Regions from separate parts of the Homo sapiens genome. Here region 1 is linked to region 2. The links come from fine-mapping of genetic effects on plasma protein levels. A gene starts in region 2. The other region holds a variant in brackets. All regions are shown on one strand. Distances are between the middles of the regions. Region 1 overlaps EPHA1 (EPH receptor A1). Region 2 holds the start of EPHA1 (EPH receptor A1).

What was found. PIP is the posterior inclusion probability: the model's chance that the variant is causal. The UK Biobank Pharma Proteomics Project read protein levels with antibody pairs (Olink). The fine-mapping took linkage between variants from a reference panel, not from the people measured, so its PIPs are less certain.
Region 1: its variant is fine-mapped to the plasma level of the EPHA1 protein (UK Biobank, PIP above 0.99). The variant lies in the coding sequence of EPHA1. If it changes the protein, the assay may bind it differently, which can mimic a change of level.

Annotation. Positions count from the first base shown.
Region 1 is chr7:143,394,024-143,396,523 of GRCh38, forward strand. EPHA1 (EPH receptor A1) reads right to left here. Exons shown (of 18, transcript NM_005232.5): 11 at 2,362-2,487; 12 at 1,296-1,481; 13 at 1,098-1,159; 14 at 785-991; 15 at 171-320. Among named protein-coding and RNA genes, the nearest start is that of EPHA1-AS1, 13 kb to the right of the region's middle. RefSeq lists an enhancer at 1,485-2,195 and a silencer at 2,133-2,427. The variant G/A (reference allele first, on the strand shown) is at 1,153.
Region 2 is chr7:143,407,538-143,410,037 of GRCh38, forward strand. EPHA1 (EPH receptor A1) reads right to left here and starts at 1,319. Exons shown (of 18, transcript NM_005232.5): 1 at 1,187-1,319; 2 at 74-141. The coding sequence starts at 1,268. It overlaps EPHA1-AS1 (EPHA1 antisense RNA 1), which reads left to right and starts at 276. Exons shown (of 5, transcript NR_033897.1): 1 at 276-349. RefSeq lists an enhancer at 1,391-2,003.

The DNA of each region.
Region 1 (2,500 bases), 14 kb before region 2:
GAGTAAAGAGAGCAGGGCATGAGGTGAAGAACCAGAGGAGCCAGGAGTACAGAAAAACTGAAGGTCATGAATAAATAAAGATATTTGCAGGAAAAGGCCATGGGAGGACCTTGGGAGGAAATAAGAGGTGTGAATTGGAGACAAGATGAGGAAGAATATTCTGGGCTCACCTCCTGATTGCTCATCTCCCCATAAGGCTTGTCCCCAAAGCTCAGCACCTCCCACATCACAATCCCAAAGCTCCACACATCGCTGGCTGTGGTGAAGATCCGATGGGCAATGGCTTCAGGGGCTGTCCAACGGATAGGGATCTTTCCTCCCTAAGAAGGCACATGGGTCAGGGACGGAAAGTTATGGTGTCCACCTGAGCACGAGTCTTTCTGCTTCTTTTATTGTATTTTTATTTTATTTTTTTTGAGACAAAGTCTCGCTCTGTTGCTAGGCTGCAGTGCAGTGGCGCAATCTCGGCTCACTGCAACCTCCACCTCCCAGGTTCAAGCGATTCTCCTGCCTCAGCCTCCTGAGTAGCTGGGACTACAGGCGCCTGCCACCATGCCCAGCTAATTTTTTGTATTTTTAGTAGAGACGGGGTTTCACCATGTTCGCCAGGCTGGTCTCGATCTCCTGACCTTGTGATCCACCTGCCTCGGCCTCCCAAAGTGCTGGGATTACAGGTGTGAGCCACCGTGCCTGGCCAAGTCTTTGTGCCTATATACATGTGACTGTATGAATGGCATGTTACGGGGCAATGTGAATGTGCACTGGGTTTGTACCGGCCTCTAACCTGGGTTTCGTATGTGCCATCAAAGTCATCCAGGAGGCGAGTCAGGCCAAAGTCAGACACCTTGCAGCACAGGTTTTGATTCACCAAGATGTTTCTGGCAGCCAGGTCCCGGTGGACATAATTGTGATTACTGAGGTAGTTCATGCCAGATGCTATGCCCTGCAGCATGGCCACTAGCTGCCCAGGGACCAGCTGGTCCTCCCGCTCCTGCAGCAGGGTGAGTGGGTGAGTCAGGGGATGGGCCAGGTCTCCTCCCAGTGCCCAGGGTACCATGGTGCATCCCCCTCCCCAGCTAGTCCTCTGCCCTCCTCACCCTCAGGAAGGCATCCAGGGCTCCATTCTCCATAAATTCTGTGATGATCATGATC[G/A]GCTTTCCTGAGACACAGACACACATATCACACTCAGAACCGGGCTTCCTGCCCTTGGCCACACATCCTCCCTCCACTTCCAGTGGTTTCACCCCTCTTTCCTGCATTTCCCGCCCCCAGCTGAGGGAGACCACTCATCGTACGCTTTGTGACGACGCCTTCCAGATGCAGAATATGCGGGTGGCTAAACTGGCCCATGATAGTTGCCTCTCGAAGGAAGTTCCACCACTGGCCACCTGGGGATGTGTCTTTTAAGGTCTTAATGGCCACAGTCTTGCAGTCCTGGCTGGGGAGCCTCAGGGTCCCTCGATACACTTCCCCAAACTCTCCTGGGTAGAAAGAAAACAGGCTGTGGCCCGATGCACTGCAGGGCTCCTCCAGGGGACAGGCAGCAACCCCTCCAGTCCTCCGGCCCTTTTCTTTTCTGGAGAATCAGAAGCGTGGAGTGCCCTTCCTGGGACAGGGCGTGGGCTGTCCTTCCTGGGGAAGGTCAGAGTCTGGAGCTGGAGTGCAATGCCGTGACCTATTCACCACTGTCTCCCAGTGTTTGCACAGTTCTTGGCTCACAATAGGCGCTCGGCAACTGCAGGGTGAATGAACCCTGTGGAGCGGGACTGGGCCGTGCTCATGAAGAGCAAGCTAGTGCGGCACTAGTACCCAAGTGGCAGGGACGCTGGCTATGGCCGCCTCTCTTCTGTGAGCTCCTCTGGTCCCAGCTTGCCTGGCTCAGCTGCACAATTGGCAAGGACACCACCAAGCTTTGTTCTCCACTGAGATCCATTTCCTCTGGTGACCCAAGGGAACAGGGCAGCCCAAGGACACTGGGCCTCTGATGGGGTGGAATGCCAGGCTAGGGAGGGAATGAGTCCTACATTTGGGCATCATCACAGAACATCTGGACCCTCAGCACAGCAGCACCTCTGTGGATGAAAACAGTGTATTTAATGCCCTTTATCAGAAACTCCAAAACCACAGAAGCAAGTGTGTAGGAGACAGGGGTTGCTCCAGGGCACCTGATGAGGGGTTTTTAACAAGAACGCAATGGTTCAAAGAGGATACAGAGCAGAGCAGAGTGAGTACCTCTGGAAACTCTTGGACCAGAGAAGCCAGCTGGGCTGCCCAGGGAAGCGCTGGAAGGAAGGGGCCTGCTGGTGGCTCTGTGCTGCCCCACATGGCGGGGGGCCTGCTGCGGTGCACAGCAGGACTCACCTTCTCCTATGACAGTGTCCACCATCAGCCACGCTGGATCAAGCTCCCGGGTAAAGTCCAGGGCTCCCTGTGCAGGGTCCTCGTATGCCTGGAGGTCCACATAAGGCTTCAGCCACAGCTTGTCCTCTATGGGCAGAAC
Region 2 (2,500 bases):
CACCCACCTCTCCACCCCATTTCCCACTGGCCTTCAGGAGTTTTCCAAGATCCTTCCCTCTTCCGACACTTACCCCATCTTTTGGGGGATCCAGCAGCCAGCCCAGCTCTCCCTGTGCCTTGCTTGTGTCCATCAGAGTAACTGAAAGTGGGGAGAAAAGAAGTCTGTCACCTCTGGGGGAGGAGGTGCCCCTGCAGCCCACATTAATCATTCTGGGGCCTCAGCCCCAGGCTGCAACATCCTGTTCCTAAAAGCTGTGACTTCCTGAGGCTTAGGGGAGAAAAAGGGCTCAGGACTGAGGAGTGAAGAGCTCCAGGGATTTCACTCTTCTTTGTGTGTGTGAAGGAAGGCAGGTAGAGTGGGACAAGGGTTGGGGCGCTGGGTCTTTGACCAAAGTCAATGCAAGAAGAGCAGCCCCACGAGACGCTCAGTTACCCAGGCTGCTGCGTCCTGGGACACCCATCAGCTGCAGGATTGGAACGCGTGGAGGGCAGGAGGAGCTCACCTCTGCTAGCCAGGAGTGGGCAGGGTGGACCGGGGACCTCAGAAGGGGTTTCCTGGGTAGGGAGGCTCACCTCCACTGTCCGAAGCCTGCTTTGGCCTGACCTGGCCAGTGATCAGAGCCGTGAAGTGGGGATAAGAGGCACAGCTACCTGCCTGGGAAGTGGGGGGGAGTAAGGCCGGAGAGGGTGTTCCAACTTTCACATGGAATATTCGACTCGGACAACTGGGAACCCCTGTGGCGTCAGTCCTAACCCTTCTCCCGGAGGCAGCTCCCTCTGTCCCTGGCCTAGGTTGGCAGGAGGCGACTTCCCACCTTCAACTTCCAAGGGCTCAGATCTCTGGGGTGGGCACCTGAAGCTGGGACTGTCTGGGAATGCAGGCAGGGGTGCGGGTGCAGGTGCTACTTCCTGGCAAGGGTCCGGAATTCCCTCCCCACTCCCAGGAGCAGATTGCTGGCCTGCGGGAGTGGGGGTGACTGACCCGGGAGAGCAGCCGCTTGGGGTTAAAGACCAAAGATGGGCCTGGCCAGTCGATAGCCTGGCGGTCGGGCACAGCGAGAGAGCTGGCGAGGGTCTCGGGGAACATGGCCCCTAGGAATGCCGGCTTCTGCAGGGGGGTGCTGGCCGGGCCCCGGGAAGGGGCGGGGCGCGGGGGTTGGGGGCGCGGGGGCGGGGGTCGGTACCTTCCTTGGCGCGCGCCCCCGGGGGCAGCGGGGCGCAGAGCAGCAGCACCAGCCCTAGCCCCAGGGGCCAGCGCCGCTCCATAGCTCCGGGCCGGGACCTGGGACAGTGGCCCGGATGGCAGCGCCAGGTTGCAAGGGACTAGGAGAGCCGGGCGGGCCGGGCGGGGGCGGGGGGCGGGGCCAGCGCCGGGGGCGGAGTCCCGGCCTCACCTGGTTCACCTCCTTAAAGGGACAGTAGGGCAGGAAAGAAACTTGCTAGACTGGTAATCAAATTCAAGAACCGGAGGCGTCTTGACCCGAATGAGACTGCGGGCGCCGCCTAGTAGGTGGGATTAAGAATTGACGAACCTTTTCCCAATTCTAATCCTAAACTCAACCCAATCTTGATCCAGCTTTTAACCTAATTCTACCTCTGACTTGAATTACACTCCTATATTCCTCTTTCTGTCTTTGTGCAGGCCCCAGAGCTGGGTAATAGGGCCGGGGAAGGCAAGGGGTAAGAGTCATATCTTCACCCTCTAGCAGGGGAGGCTTAGATGACCACAATGCAAGGTGGGGTACAACCTGCAGTGAAGCATCTGGAGATTAGAAGAGGAAGCAAGCCCAGTCATCGGGGCACATTAGTTGAGTCTTCAGGGAGAGCTGGTGTGACCTGGGTTTTCAGTGGCAGAGATTGGGAAAGGCACCAGCAAGGGCCTGAAGGCAGGGAGCCTCAAGGTGCGCCCAGGGAGTGGTGAATGGACCAGTTTGACTGCTGGGGCGCAGGATTTGTCTTGGGAATCAGGGCAGAAAGGCAGGTGTGGGCCAGGGCTGGGTAAACAAGAAAAGGAGTTTGAACCTTGACATGCACTTACACAGCAGACATGAATATCTGGTTAAGGTTCCAGCCACAGGTGGCAGGGAAGGATATTTTAACCCATCTTAGTGGTGTCAAACCACGTGCCCTCTCACTTTCTTGCGGACTTCCTTATATTCTTTTTCTTTTTTGAGATGGAGTCTCGCTCTGTGGCCCAGGCTGCAGTGCAGTGGTGCAATCTTGGCTCACTGCAACCTCCGCCTCCCTGGTTCAAACGATCCTCCTGCCTCAGCCTCCCGAGTAACTGGGATCACAAGCGTCAAGCGTGCACCACCACACCCAGCTAATTTTTCTATTTTTAGTAGAGACGGGGTTTCACCATGTTGGCCAGCCTGGTGTCGAACTCCTGACCTTAGGTGATCCCTCCTGATCTCAAGTGATCTCCCTGCCTCTGCCTCCCAAAGTCCTGGAATTACAGGCCTGAGTTACTGCGCTCTGCCGAGACTTTCTTATATTCT